Linked DNA regions of Homo sapiens. The protein of the gene in region 1 purifies or fractionates together with the protein of each later gene. This does not show direct contact. Each region holds a gene or a part of one and is shown on either strand. Other genes may lie near its edges.

Region 1 (4,852 bases):
ACTTGTAGGTTCTAGTAAGGATTAAAACGGGTGATCATGTAAAGCACTTAGCACAGTGACTGGCACAGAAAAAGCACTTGGTAAATGCTATTTTAATAAAGTCACTGTCACTCCAAGGTCTCTTGGAGCATCCTGTCTCTTCACTGGGATGCTTCCTTCCTTCCTCTGTTCAGAACTTACCAGGCCAGGCTAAAACCTCAGCTCTCCATTTGTTATGCGGGCCCTTGGGCAGGTTACCTACACTAAACCTCAGTTTTCTCACCGGTAAAAGGGAGATTATAAGGGATTCTTCATTGAAGGGTGTGGAATTATAAATAGTACCTAGCACATGGGAAGAATGAATTACATAAGCCTATTAAAAATAGCAAGCATTCAGTAAATACGTTTTGTTGTGGTTAATATCACCCTTACTAATATCCACGACAAAAGCTGGCAAGAGTAGGTGATTACTATAGGTCATCTCCCCTCCCTTTTACTGGGGGCAGATGTGGTGCACTCACTCCTGCCCACAGACCTCCTTAGTCTGAATGAAATCCACAGCCTGGGCAAAGGACTAGACTCTCTGGGGAGCCCTTTCTCCCTCCTGGGTGGCAAAGCTCCCTCTTGGGTCCTCCCCCAACCTCTTACTAACCTGCCTGAGCCCAAACTGTGGCCTTCTGCCTTACACAGTCAGTTTGGAACCAGACCTGGGGCTGTGGCCTCAGGTCATCTTCCCCAACTGCAACTTTTAGAGTGCTCAGGGTCCCAAAAGTTGGGAAAGAAACTGTCCACTAGCAGAGGTGGCAACAGACCCATCTTTCTGAGCCCTGTTCAGGGCTCTTTCCATTCTACATGCTAGAAACTGGAGAGAAAGGAGTCACCCAAGCCACACACACTGGTCTCATAGTCCTTAAGGTGCCAAGTTTCCATCCTTAAGGCTCCCTGTGGCTGGGGCCGTCTCACCCAGCACTCCAGGGTCCAGCCCTGATTCTGGACCCAGGTGTTTCCTTGCCCTGGCTCTTGGCTCAGTGCCCCAGCTGGGTCAAAGAAGGGGTGAGGGATGCAGGCCTGCACTGAGAACAGCATTTTGTAGTGCAGGTGGACATTCGGTAACAAGAGGAAACCCCTTTGTTGTATCTTAGGGTGTAAAGAGAAGAGTCTAGCTCTGTCCTGCCCATCGTGCCCCGGCCATGACCCGCACCTTGCTGCAGCTCTGTGTAGCTAATGGAGCCCGAGCGGTCCCGGTCATACTGCTGGAAGAGGTTCTTCCACTGCTGGATGAATTTCCACAGGGCTGAGAAGCCGTAGACATCGATGCGGCCTGACTTGGTCTTGTCAAACATGTCTGAAGGTGAGGAGGGAAAGGAGGGGAGGAAGGCTTCAAGACTGAAGGCCAAGGGTCCCCCTCAGGACCCATTGAGGCAGCCCTTCTCTCCAGGCTGGAGTAGGCGACTTCACAGAACCAAGCCCTGAGGCCCAGATGCCTGCACCTGAGACACCCACATCAAGCGTTGCACCGTCCTCCTACTCTGGACACCTTTAGCCCCACCCCATCCAGAACTGCATTTTCTCTGCAGGCTTGGCACCTGACCCCTCCCTGCTGTTTCCTACAGGGGAGGGAGTACCATTCTACAGAAGAGGAAACTAAGTTAACCTGTAACTAGGCAGGGTCTAGAACTTAAGAAAGATCTCAGGAAAAGAGCTCTCAGTCTAGGGGATCTCACCCTGAACCTAGCTTCCTCCCCACAGTCCTCCCTGGTCAATGAATTTCTCTTCAGAATGTCCACCCACCCACCTACCCACCTACTGTCCACTATCAGGTGGCTCTGCCCCAGCTCAGGCCCAAGGGCAAGGCGGAGACTCACTTATCATCATGAGGCAGGTCTCATCATTGAATGAAGACCAATTGCAGTTGACCAGGGCCTGCTTTAGCTCCTTCATGGAGATATAGCCACTGTGATCTGAGTCCACCGACTGGAACCAGGAGTAGGCCTCAGGATCCACATTGGGAGGGGCGCCACCTGGAGGAAGGGGTGTGAAGGCCATCAACAGAAATGCCAGGAAGGGCCAGCCTCAGTAACTTCCTGGCTACAGGTTTCTCCTACACACGAAGCTTCACAAATTCACCTTCCCTGTCTTCCATCAAGCTGACATTCTTACTCTGATGGAAGAGGACCTTCAGTGAAGATTCATGAGTATTTGCAGTTGATTTCTATTCCATGAGTCCTCTGGAGTTCTCGTATAGTGTTCCAGACACTACTCTTAATTGATTTTATGTTTTTAAGGAACGGGGACCTGTACCCCTGTAGCATTTCAAGAATTCTCTGGAAAAGGTAAACTGCGAGATGGGGGAATGGGTGGTAGATAAAAGTGTAGAAGTGGCCAGGCACAGTGGCTCACGACTGTAATCCCAGCACTTTGGGAAGCCGAGGCAGGCGGATCACCTGAGGTCGGGAGTTTGAGACCAGCTTGACCAACATGGAGAAACCCCGTCTCTACTAAAAATAGAAAATTAGCCGGGCATGGTGGCACATGCCTGTAATCCCAGCTACTGGGGAGGCTGAAGCAGGAGAATCGCTTGAACCCGGGAGGTGGAGGTTGTGGTGAGCCAAGATCACGCCATTGCACTCCAGCCTGGGCAACAAAAGCGAAACTCCATCTCAAAAAAAAAAAAACAAAAAAACCCAAAAAAAACAGTGTAGAAGCTGGTAAGTCTGTCTACCTTAGGACACTGAGTTAACTGGCCACAATCGGGGTCCCTTCACACAAAGACAGCCATGGGCAGTTGTGGAGGACAGAAACCACTGCCTAGTACCAAAGCCCAGTAAGGACAGAGGGAAAAAGGTATGCCTGACTTAGGGATTAGTCTGACTTCCTTGGAAAAATCCGGGCAGGTTCTAGCCATCTTCCTAAAACATCGGTGTCATAGGGGAGCAAGGGCCACAGCCCCAGGGCAGGAGAGATTCTGTGACATGTTTGAACTGTGTAGTTTGTATAGAAGGGCTCAGGCTTTGGAATCAAAGCAGACCTGGATTCAAACCCTGGATCTGATCCTTACTAGCTTGTGTGACTTTAGGCAAAATGTACAATTTTCTGAGTAATGATTTTCACATTTCTAAAATGAACCCATTTCCCCAGAATTGTTGTGATGATTAAATGAGATAACAGCAAAATAAAATCCTCAGCAAAGAGCCTGGAATGTGTGTCTTCTGAGATATTTTCACAGAGAAACGGATATTTAAACTGAGTTTCTCCCCATGGTAGGCTACATTATCGTCTCCTGGCTAATAATCTCTAGCCAGGAGACACAGTCTGCACACCCACAGACATTGTACTAATATGGTACAATGGTTTAAAAGGCCAGTTCAATAATCTATTATTAGATTACTTGCTAATCTCCCCTTCCCTATAAGAGCATTGTACATCCTCTCCCACTGCCTGGTGGCTTGCAGAGGGGCATCCTTTCCCATCCTACTGATGTCAGTCTTGATCAGGGGGTGCTCTGGCCAAAAGAATGCAAGTGGGCAAGACATACAGTACTTCAGAGAAGCTTTAAGAGGCATTGTGCATTCTTGCTAGCTCTCCTGCTCCTTCTCTCTGCCACAAAGATAACATATCCCAAACAGGAGCTGCTCCTTCAGCATGTATCCCTGAATGAAAAAGACACAGGGAACAGAAACTCAACAGCCAGCTAACAGCTGCTGACATGTAAGCAAAAGAAAGTAAGCATGAGCAAGCAATACAAATAAATGCTTGCAACAAAACTAGCTGACAAACTTATCATTTTGAGGATACACACTGAAGCTGGAAGCAAGATGCTAAGGTGCCAGAGACCAGGCTGCCTGCACACCCACAGGAAGGACAAAGGCTGGCCATGGATAACTCAGAACCACGTCAGAGGTACCCGGAGTCCAAGATTACTACTTACCCTGTCCATAAAGCCCAGGCTGCTGGGCACCGTAGGAACTTGGAGGTGGCTGACCATAGGGGCCCCCGGGAGCTGCACCGCCATATGGTCCTCCTGGAGTTCCAGAGGGGAACATCCCAGGATTGGGGTGTCCATAGGGCCCTCCACCAGCTGGTGGTCCATAAGGCCCTCCAGGGGCAGGACCCCCATAACCACCACCAGGGGGTAGCCCACTACCATACTGCCCTCCACTATTGGGGGGTCCAGGGTAGTAGCTACCCGGAGGGGCTCCTGGTGCTTGTCCTGCAGCTCCTGGGCAGCCCTGCAGGAAGAGCAAGATATCAGTCAGAATGATGAGGCCAGAAACTAGGCAGAGTATGGCACTTTACAACCATAAAGCACTTCCACCACCATCCTTTCAACTGATCCTATAGGTAGGGTTGGAATTATGATCTCACTGCTCAGATGGGCAAACTGAGGCTTCCAGAGGAGCAACGAGTTACCCAAAGTCACCCCGCCAATGACCTGCAGAGTCAGGGTTGAAATCCTCCTTTCCTAACTCTCCTTTCCTGCACATCAAGGGGCTCCACAAGGGCTAGGATCCTGTCTGGTTTGTCACTTTATCCCCAGCTCCCAGTGTAGAATGGATACTTGGTAAATATTTCCTGTATGAATGAATAGGCAAATGAATCAAACAGAATTCCAAATGCCCATCCTGTGGTACTCCCATCTCTATCTGCAGAACTCATGGGGCAAACGCAGTCTCTAACACACACCCCTGACCCTCATCAGTCACAAATGACATAGCTATAGCATGGATTCATCCACAGCATGTCTTCCTTACCCTGATGTAAAAACATTTCCCTATCCTCACTCACAACTCTGTGAGGCAGGCAGGGGAGACCCTATTCCTAAGGCAATACGATACAATGCTTTCAAAGGCCAGTTCAACAGCTAGGCGTGGTG
Region 2 (3,564 bases), on another chromosome or scaffold:
GAGAGCCCTCCACTGAGAAAGCGCAGCCCTGGATCTAGGCCTGAGGAATTTGGAGCAGAGGGGATGGGGTCACATCCAGGATCTGCTGAAAATTTGGGGGTGTCGAGGTCAGTGAGGGAAGCCTGAGTCCCACGGGAGCAGGTGGCAGTCCAGCTGTTTACATGCTAGAATGTTCTATTGAACACCCACTGTGAGCCATGTGCAGATGCCCCCCCACACTCAGTGCTGGGAGCACAGAAATGACTCATATCTGGCCTCAGTCTGTTTGGATAGACAGACGGTATGGCCAGTGCTATGGAGCCATCAGTGCTGTGATGGTGGGAAGAGGAGCAGGGCGGCGGTGGTGGGGGGAGTGCAGAAGGTGACATCTGGCGGGCGGGTTGTAGGACAGAGAGAGCGGGCAGCAGTGGGCTGAGGACACGCCCCGTGGAGGGACCAGTGAGTGCAGAGTGGGAGGGTGTGTGACGAGTGCCACATGGGACCTGCCAGACTAGGCCGATGGAGATTGCGGGGCCTGGTGGGTGGGTCCTGGGGCTGCCCCAACTTGGCATTTTTCCCAGCTTGTCGGGCTGCAGTGCTGAGGGTGGCCTGCAGGGGGCAGGCTGGAGGCGCTGATGGGGAGACGGGGAGACCCCCCCTGGCAAAAGCCCTGAGCGCTCGGTGGAGGTGGGGGACCCGCGGAGTCGCCTGCGCACTGCAAGTCCTCTGCGGGAGCCTGGCTACTTCCCGCCCCCTCCCCATGCCCATCCCGCTGGTACCCGGTTGCCATAGCAACCAGCCGGGCCTCCTGCACCTAGCAGGGGAGCGTGGATGGGCAGGAGCTGCAGTGTCAGGGGGACAGGATGCCAGGAACCCCGAGTGCTCCAGGGCCCAAGGGACATCCCCAGTCCAGCCTTTCCCAGGGAGGGATGTCCTGGATTCCCTGCCCTCTGTTTCCTCCAGCCCTGGACAAAACGCTCTGTGTTCCTGGGCAGCCCATTGTGTGCCTTTGGCAGGAGGGGGACCTGGCTCTGTGTGCTGCTGGCTCTGCGCTGGTGGCCGGAGCCCTGTGTCTCACGGTCACGTGACACCTCAGGATCCTAAGGTGCCGATCACCTTCACACCCACTCAGAAAACCAAAGCTCAGAGACGGGGAGGAAGCTTCCTGGGGTCACACAGTTTGCCAGCGGCGAAGCCCTGTCCCCAGTCTCACTTTTTCCTTTTTAGTAGATTGTTTTCAATATAACGTCTATACAGAAAAACACAGACGTGTACACAGTTTGATTCTTCTTAGACTGAACACCTGGTTTCACCAGCCCCCAGATACAGAGTGTGATGAGAACACCGAGGCCCCTTCACCCCACCCCAGGGCTCAACCTCCCCCTGGGCAGCTGCTGCTCTGTCTCCTCAAACTTCCCGGGCGGGTTCTGCCTGTTCTCACAGCTCCTGCATGTGGAGTCGGTGGGTTCTGCCTGTTCTTACAGCTCGTGCGTGTGGAGTCGGTGGTTCTGCCTGTTCTCACAGCTCCTGCGTGTGGAGTTGGGTTCTGCCTGTTCTCACAGCTCGTGTGTGTGGAGTTGGCGGGTTCTACCTGTTCTTACAGCTCGTGCATGTGGAGTCGGTGGTTCTGCCTGTTCTCACAGCTCATGTGTGTGGAGTCGGTGGTTCTGCCTGTTCTCACAGCTCATACATTGGAATCGGGCAGTATATGTTGTTTCAGGCTTCTTTCTCCGCATGTCATGTTTGTGAGTCATGCCTGTTGACACAGGTGGTTGTAATCTGGTCTCACTGCTGTGTAATGCCTGCAGAGTGTACCATGGCGGCCTGGCCACCCTCCTGTCAGTGGGTACCGGGCAGCTCCCAGTGTCCTCTTGGGCCTGGCTTTGGTGCGCACACGGACACCTTTCTGATGGGGAACCTGCTCTTTCGCCTGCCTGTGCTGTGGTGCTGCCCCGAACAGCCGTGTGATCGTGCCCCCGAGCCTTTCATTCACTGAGTCCACAGCGCTTTGCTGAGCAAAAGCAAATGAACAGGTCAATGAAGCGAGACCAGGAGGAACAGCAGAGTCTTGTGAACCCCAGGACTCTCAGCTCAGGGGCTCGGGGTGACTGCAGAACCATACAGGCGGTGGAAGTGGGGCCCCCCGACCCGGGGACGTCTGTTTCTCGCTCCTAGGCAAGGTTGGCCTCTTGCACCTCTTTCCATAGATCCCAGCTCTGCCTTTGGGGGGTGCAGGCCTGTGCACCTGCAAGAGGGCCCAGCAGTGCCCAGCCCCTCGGAGCCCGAGTCAGTGAGAGCACCCAGGACCGGGACCAGAGGCCCCCAGTCAGCACAGCTGCTTCAAAATTGAAAGCCAGGCTGGGCGCGGTGGCTCACGCCTGTAATCCCTGCACTTTGGGAGGCCGAGGTGGGTAGATCACTTGAGGTCAGGAGTTTGAGATCAGCTTGGCCAACATGGTGAAACCCCGTCTCTATTAAAAAAAAAAAAAAAAAATTACGTGTGGTGGCAGACGCCTATAATCCCAGGTACTTGGGAGGCTGGGGCAGGAGAATCACGTGAACCCAGGAGGTAGAGGTTGCAGTGAGCCAAGATTGTGCCACTGTACTCCAGCCCGGGTGACAAAGCAAGACTTCATCTCAAAAAAATAAAAAAATAAGAAATAAATTGAGGCCGGGTGCAGTGGCTCATGCCTGTAATCCCTGCACTTTGGGAGGCCGAGGTGGGTAGATCACTTGAGGTCAGGAGTTCGAGATCAGCCTGGCCAACATGGTGAAACCCCCTCTCTATTAAAAATACAGAAAAAAATTAGCCAGGTGTGGTGGCAGACACCTGTAATCCCAGCTACTTGGGAGGCTGGGGCAGGAGAATCACATGAACCCAGGAGGTAGAGGTTGCAGTGAGCCAAGATTGTGCCACTGTACTCCAGCCCGGGTGACAGAGCGAGACTCCGTCTCAAAACAATAAATAAGAAATAAATTGAGGCCGGGCACGGTGGCCCATGCTTGTAATCCCAGCACTTTAGGAGGCCGAGGTGGGCAGATCACCTGAGGTCAGGAGTTCGAGACCAGCCTGGCCAACATGGTGAAATCCTGTCTCTACCAAAAATACAAAAAGTAGACAGGTGTGGTGGCACGTGCCTGTAATCCCAGCTACTCAGGAGGCTGAGGCAGGAGAATCATTAGAATCCAGGAGGCGGAGACTGCAGTGAGCCAAGATGTGTTGCACTGTAGCCTGGGTGACGGATGGAGTGAGATTCTGTCTCAAAAAAAAAAAAAAATTGGAAGCCAGTCTCCCAGGAGAGGTGTAGACATGCTTTGGTTTCTCTCTGATATGTATTTATTATTGATCTTCAGTAAATTTGACTCTGATCTGTTAACATGGGGCTAATGATACCTGCATTGCAGGGTTGCTTTAAAAGGATTAATAATTTGTAAAATGTGTAGCCCAGACCCCGCCGTCCACTAAGAGCTCAGTAGGTGTCACTATTATCATTGATGCCACTTAGCAAATATGAGCTCTTTAAATCATTATGACAACTTTGAGGGGAAGATGCCCTTAGTCCATTGTACAGATGAAGAAACTGA
Region 3 (3,564 bases), on another chromosome or scaffold:
GCCTCAGCCTCCCAAAGTGCTGGGATTACAGACATGAGCTACTGCACCTGGCTGGAACCTGTTCTTTTATCCACAAAAGCTCATTTGACAGGAGGTTTGTAAAGGTGATTTCAGTATTGACAAGGGTTTTATTGTGGGGTGGGACAACACTGAATGAGACTGAGTGACTTGGTACCAGCATAACATTATTTCTTCGTGGTAGTAGGTGATCTCCTGACCTCCCCACTCCTACTCATCTGCCTCTTAGGGTTTTTTTTTTTTTCTGTCCCTAACTTGATGGCATAAGACTCCTTCCTGGGGTCTGCCTCTCCACCCCCACCAGATGTGGGATGCTTGGTGTCTCTGCTGAATATAGGCAGAGAAGAATTTGGATGGGAGTGCTGGGCTGCATCATTGTGGAACTTCAAAGCGTTCCCTTAATATTTTGGGGAGTACAGTGTTGGTGTAGAGTTAGGCAGCTCATACGTTTCCTTTTAAAAGTTTGCATAGCCTGGATACACAGCTTGAAGAACCTCAGCAGGAATGATGTATGTGAAAATTGCATTCCATTTTATAATACATTAGTATGTTTTAAGACAAAAATCGTTTAGACTGACAAGCCATTCATTATAATCGATAATGCTGTTTTTTTTGGAGTCCACTTTGAGAAGTGCTCCTTTGTAGAAGTCCTTGAAACTAGAATCAGGAAAGCTAGCTACATCCTGTTCCTTACATAAATTGTTGAGAAATCTTGGGAGAGTCACTTCACCTCTTGTCAGCTGAGAAGATTGATTGGAGGTTACAGATTAGAGTTCTCTTCCAGCCCTATGTTCTGTGACTCTAGAATGAGTACTGAGAACATGTGATAGTTGGGAGGTTGGCAGTGGTAGCACTTCCTGGTGGTGTGAATGGGTAGGTCAGAGAAGGCTGGATGTACTGAGTGAGCAGAGGCAGCTGCATGGTGAGGACTATCAAGTCTGGGGGTTCTGTGTTCGAAGTCTCAGGTGTTAGGAGAGAGAGATCTTGTTGCTTTGCTTTTGTGGAGTTAAGATGAAGATCTGGAGTATCAGCAGGATGAGCAACTCTGAAAGCATGGACTCAAAGCGGTAGAGACCCTAATGTTAGAATGAAGTCAGGGCTTCAGGTTATCTGCAGAAGTAAAAATGGTTCTGGTGTTGTTTCCAGTTTTTAACCTTTTAGGATTTTATTGATTTTTTTTTTTCCCCTCTGCCTACATCATCATCTCCCCACACTGTTTGGTGTGTGCTGCGTAGTTTTTTACTTCTTTTGCCAGCAGGAGCTGGGGCAAGTTACGTAACCTTTCCAAGCCTTATTTTTTTCTCATTTTTGAAATGTTGATGCTGTCTTCTTCACAGTATTTTTGTGAGGGTTTTGAGAGAATGTTTGTAAAATAATTTGACACAGTTAGTCTGTTAGCACCCTTTTGACTGCCCGCGCAGTGCACAGAACATTGTTATTTAATACCTGTCCGCATTCTAGCCCTTTGGAATCTGACTCCCACCCATGTCCCAGGTTGCTGTCTCAGCCTTTCCTTCCTCCAGTTATTGCAAGAGCTTTTGCCCTTCCTTGACAAGCCTATTCTTAGAGCTGTGGCATTTCCTCCAGTGGTTCCCTGTGGAAGATGTGCCTCTCATTCAGGGTCTAACTGGGATCCTCCTTGTTCCAAGAAGTCTCCCTAGATTTCTTTCGCCAGACATGCTCATTCCCACCCATACCCTGACAGGGAATTGAGGGCCTTGTCATGCCCCCTCTTGTATCAGAGTTTTCATGTGTGGGTATGTCTTGACTGTACTTTTTTGGTAGAGAGGTCCCAGCACCTTCATGGGTGTGACTGTTTCCCAGAAAATGTTAAGAACTTGTTTACACACCAGAATTTTGAGTTCTTAGGAGGCAGCAGAAATCATTTTGATGTTTTTTGTGCGTGCGTGTTTCTTGCACACTGTAGGCGCATAGTAGATGTTTGTTGAATTGAATGTCCATGCAGTGTGGTGAAAAACAGCAGCAGTCCTGTAAACCTGGTTCCATTTTGGGAATTGAAGTTCAGCCATATTTTCATGTTTCATTTGTGAGTCTGAATTTTGGTGCCTTTATAACCCACAGTTGTACCAGGACCGTGTATTCTTTGCATTGTGAACAAGACTGGGGTCTGTAAAATAATGACAACAAAGACCATCTAACTGTACATCTTTTAGGTATGTAAATATTGTTAGCCTTGGCTTATAAGTTTCTGATTTTGTTGATTTTGGAATCCTCCTGTTAAACACTGTTTACCTGTCAGCTTTTGGTGAAGTGGCAGTGCATTTCCATTTTGCCAGTGGGAAAACTTGTCAGTTTCTGACTTTTAGTTCTCTCCTTCACAGATTTTACGACATTTCTACAAGATATGTGGTACAGTATTGGGCAGATGAACTGATTGCTGGATTGGTGTTTGATTTTAGGTATTCAAAACCTTTGACCACATGGCCCGTCAGGATGATGAGAAGAGAAGGCAGGAACTTGAAGAGAAAATCAGAAGAAAGGAAGAGGAAGAGGCCAAGACTGTGTCAGCTGCTGCAGCTGAGAAGGAGCCAGTCCCAGTTCCAGTCCAGGAAATAGAGATTGACTCCACCACAGAATTGGATGGGCATCAGGAAGTAGAGAAAGTGCAGCCTCCAGGCCCTGTGAAGGAAATGGCCCATGGTTCACAGGAGGCAGAAGCTCCAGGAGCAGTTGCTGGTGCTGCTGAAGTCCCTAGGGAACCACCAATTCTTCCCAGGTGGGAATTTCTACTTTGCAGCTTCCTTCTTTCTTGCGTAACATCTGGTGTTTGGGTTTCTCCATAATTTATTCTTACTTTGTAACACATTAATTCTTGATCTCAGTATTTATTTAGCTCTTCATGTTTGTAAACTGCTGCATTACAGTCTTTCAGTTATGTAGGATGGGAGGTCAGTTGGCTTAAGGTCAGTTCCCTCATTTGGTAAGGTCAGTAGTCATACAACCATTTGAGATCCAGAGCCAAAATTAGAGCACTTGACTCCTCTCACAAAGACCTAACTTTATCTGTGTTTAGAGGCTTAGCCTCAGCAGCTCGATTGTTTGTGTTTTTCTCTCTGCAGGAGCACTGCTAGGATTTGCTCATGATGCCTGAGGTATAATGGACACCTGAAATGACAGTCTGTTTTAGGTGACTGGATTCACATCCTCGCTATGCCGCTTCCTGAATGTATTACCTTGAACAAGCAGTATAACCTTTCTGTGTCTCAGTTTTCTTCTCTATAAAATGTAGGTGATAATAATAGTACCTGTCTCATAGAGCTGTTGTGAATTTTAAATGAGCCGATAGTCAAGCAGCTAATGAGCAGTAGAGCTTGAATATGACATGAGGTTTCCCTGAATCAAGCCTCTTGCTTTATGTACTTGTACTCACTTTTTAGGAGTTATGTTTTGTGGGTGCTCTAAACTTAGTTATACAGTCCTTCCTTACAGTCTGAGTGAGAGGAGCTGATCCCTTCTTGTGTGGGAGTTGTAGTAGTGTCTGCAAGACAGCCACGAGCCTCCTGGCCTGCTTTGTTTTTTTGGAAA
Region 4 (3,564 bases), on another chromosome or scaffold:
AATGAGATGTGATTTCTTTTCTTTTCTTTTTTTTTTTTTGAGACGGAGTCTCACTGTGTTGCCCAGGCTGGAGTGCAGTGGTGCAACCTCGGCTCACTGCAAGTTCCGCCTCCCGGGTTCAGGCCATTCTCCTGCCTCAGCCTCCCGAGTAGCTGGGACTACAGGCGCCTGCCACCACGCCCGGCTAATTTTTTGTGTTTTTAGTAGAGACAGGGTTTCACCGTGTCAGCCAGGATGGTCTCCATCTCCTGACCTAGTGATCCACCCGCCTCGGCCTCCCAAAGTGTTGGGATTACAGGTGTGAGCCACCACGCCCGGCCGAGATGTGCTTTCTTCTGTTAAAAGTTTTCCCCCTCGCAACCCACCCCCCCACACCCAGGGCACAGAGAAGAAATGGGGAGAGCTGGGGAGGTGTTGCATTTGTCAGGTTTGTACAATTTGGGGGGAGCTTTTCATAGCCATGGGACTGGAGTACTCCTGAATCCCCAGCTTCCTAACTACTGTTGAAACACACACCCTGCTAATGAGAGCTTGTTAACTTACGTCCTTCTAGATCCCTTGGGAGCCTGAATACAGAGAAGGGTGCTGGTTGATGTAACAGTTTGATTTTAAATTCTGTCTTCCTCAACAGATACAGCTTCCATTAGAACATAGGGAAGCTCTGTGTTGGTGACCAAGAAATACTTGCAGAGCATTCGCCCCTGCCTACACCTCCAGCGTCACTTTCTACTGTTGCCCCCACTTTTGTTCTCCAGTTGCATTGGTTTCCTCTTCTTCTTTGAATCAGCCAAATTCCTTACTGCCTCAGGGCCTTTGCACGTGCCTTTTCTTTCCCCTTAAACTTCACGAGTTTAGCTTCTTTGTGTCATCCATTCTCTGCTCAAATGCCACCTCTCCAAGGAGGCTCCCCTGACCACCTTTTTGAATATTGGCCCTTATTGTTTACTATCCTAAAACCATGTTTTATTTTGGGGTTAACCTTTACCACTCTCTGAAATTGCCCTATTTATGCAGATTCTTGACCACAGAGTTTTTTATTTTTTAACTTTGTTCCTCCAGCCCTTCCAGCAGCTTTGCAATTAATCCCCTGTATTAAATATTCTCTTGTAAAAATACCTACCAGATTTCTCTTTTCCTTCCTCAAGATATTTTACCAGCACTTGCTAGAAAACTGTCATATTACAGATTTTGTTGAAACAAGACACTTAACTACCACACGCCTGAAAACTGCCAAAACTGACATCTGTAACACGGAGTGCCCCTATTAGATATGGTATCTTTATGCAGTGCACAACCTGCCCAACCATACAAAACAGCCCTGATCTTTCCCTCTAGATCCGTGCCATCCAATACAGTAACTGCTAGCCACATGTGGCTACTGAGCACCTGAAATGTAGCTAGTCCAAATTGAGATGTGCTGTCAGCATAACATATATACTCACTTTCAAAGACTTAATATGAAAACAAGAAAAGAATGTAAAGTATCTCATTCATAATTGTTTTATATTAATTACACTTTGAAATGATTGTATTTGGGATACATTGGGTTATTAAAGTTAACTTCACCTGTTTCTTTTTTACTTGTTTTTTTTTTTCTTTTTGAGACAAAAGTGTCACTCTGTCTCCCAGGTTGGAGTGAGTGGCACGATCTCAGCTCACTGCAACCTCCACCTCCTGGGTTTAAGTGATTCTTGTGTCTCGGCCTCCTGAGCAGCTGAGATTACAGGCGCCCGCCACCATGCCAGGCTAATTTTTGTATTTTTTTTTAGAGACAGAGTTTCGCCATGTTGGCCAGGCTAGTCTCAAACTCCTGACCAAAGGTGATCTGCCTGCCTCAGCCTCCCAAAGTGCTGGGATTACAGGTGTGAGCCACTGCGCCCAGCCTTTTTTACCTGTTTTAATGTGGCTACTAAAAAACTGGAAATGACATAAGCAGCTCAGCATTATTTCTACTAAACACCACTACTCTAGGGTATGAGCTCTGTGAGAACAGGGGTCCTGACTGTCTTGGCAATTGCTGGATTCTCAGAATTTGGCAACGCTCCATGTTACCGAGTTGGCACTCAGTGTGTATCTGCTGAATAAAGAGAGGTGTCCTCACCTGGCAGGAGTCTCTACCTGCTTTGTCACCGGCGCAGAACATGGTGTCATCTATCTGTCTCGGGTAAGCATCCTCGCACCTTTTCTGACTTAGCACGCTGATATTCAAGCACTGGAGGACCTTAGGGAAGTGCACTGTCAAACAGGAACACAATGAGAAGTGGAGAAAGATGGAAGGCGGCAGAGATGGGTCGGTATCAAGAAGAACCTGGACACTCACCTTGGGGGCTCTTGGTTGTCCCCCAGCCAGACACCAAGCACTTTGTCCCAGCAGAGGGACAATGAGAGGAGACGTTGATGGGTCTGACATCTTTAGTGGGACGAATTCTTCTGTTCAGTTTGATGAGCATGAGGTCGTTAGAGTGGCCAGGGTGGGAGTAGCCAGGGTGGGGGATGGATTTGACCCCCTGGAACATCTGCTGCCCAGATTCATAAACTGGTGACAGGGAGTAGTGGCCGAGACGGACTCTGAAAACTCTGAGGAAGATGGGGCAGGTCACCACCAACCCTGATCTCTATCTCCACGTCCAACGCCAATCCCAACCCCACACCCAGCCCCAGCCCCACCCCCATCCCCACCCCCGGTCCCCAAACCATCCTCAACTCCCTCTTGGTCTCCAATCCCATGCCTGTCCCCATCCCAGTCACAATTCCAAACCCATCCCATTCCCAACCCTAATTCTTTCCCTACCCAGAAGCCATCACCATATGCATTCTCAAGCCCAAATCCAACCATCTCCAACCCCACCCAAAACTCCAATCCCCATCCTTCATTCTATATCTGCTCCCAATCTCAACCCTATCTCCATGCTATCTTCATTTCCACCCCAGCCCGATTTTCACCCACCCCCAATTCTAAAGCCAATCCCAATTCCACCTCCATCCCAAACCATTCAACAAATATATGCTCCTAACCCCAAATCCAACCCATCCTTGGCTCCTTCCCATTCCCTACCACAACACTCTCCCCTCTCCAACCTCATCCTCCCACCTTGCTCCCCCGCAAAACTCCATCCTTAGTCCTATCCCCAACTCGACCTCCTCCTGCTCCCACATCCCCAACCCATCCCCACCAACCCTCACCTTCCATGACACCCCCAACCCCACTTCCCCGTCCCCACCAGCCCTCACCTCCATGACACCCCCACCCCCACTTCCCCACCCCCACCCCCACTTCCCCGTCCCCACCAACCCTCCTCTTGGAACTCCCACTCACTTCTTCCTGCAGTGGGCGGCCGTGAGCAGCCACTGTGGATGCACCAACACCGCCCCGCAGTAGAGCTGGTTGGGCCTTAGCAACAGCGCGGCCTGCCACGGCTGGGTGTGCATATCGCAGTCGGATCCATTGATGATGCGGCTGCTGCTGTCATCCGACCGGGCGTCTTCCCCGGCCCCAGCTCCCAGGTCCTGGTTGCTCCCAGAGGGCACGGTGTTAGAGGGGTGGTCACAGGAAACATCATTGTT

What was found. The genes of interacting proteins can lie anywhere in the genome.
Region 2: the proteins of PEF1 (region 1) and KIAA0930 purify together in Homo sapiens (affinity purification with mass spectrometry; 3 studies listed by BioGRID and IntAct, with this or other methods). This does not show direct contact.
Region 3: the proteins of PEF1 (region 1) and NUDCD3 purify together in Homo sapiens (affinity purification with mass spectrometry; 2 studies listed by BioGRID and IntAct, with this or other methods). This does not show direct contact.
Region 4: the proteins of PEF1 (region 1) and KLK5 purify together in Homo sapiens (co-immunoprecipitation; one large-scale study listed by IntAct). This does not show direct contact.

What each region holds. Positions count from the first base shown.
Region 1 is NC_000001.11:31,631,315-31,636,166, forward strand, and holds part of PEF1 (peflin), read right to left. Parts: intron 4,209-4,852; coding exon 3,908-4,208; intron 3,630-3,907; coding exon of another isoform or gene 3,532-3,629; exon of another isoform or gene 3,352-3,531; intron 3,179-3,351; exon of another isoform or gene 2,001-3,178; coding exon 1,845-2,000; exon of another isoform or gene 1,325-1,844; coding exon 1,181-1,324; coding exon of another isoform or gene 1,122-1,180; intron 1-1,121. UniProt on the Homo sapiens protein: Calcium-binding protein that acts as an adapter that bridges unrelated proteins or stabilizes weak protein-protein complexes in response to calcium.
Region 2 is NC_000022.11:45,206,395-45,209,958, reverse strand, and holds part of KIAA0930 (uncharacterized protein KIAA0930), read left to right. Parts: intron 1-3,564.
Region 3 is NC_000007.14:44,484,159-44,487,722, reverse strand, and holds part of NUDCD3 (nudC domain-containing protein 3), read left to right. Parts: intron 1-2,438; coding exon 2,439-2,755; intron 2,756-3,564.
Region 4 is NC_000019.10:50,946,539-50,950,102, forward strand, and holds part of KLK5 (kallikrein-5 preproprotein), read right to left. Parts: coding exon 3,317-3,564; intron 2,578-3,316; coding exon 2,321-2,577; intron 2,236-2,320; coding exon 2,102-2,235; intron 1-2,101. UniProt on the Homo sapiens protein: May be involved in desquamation.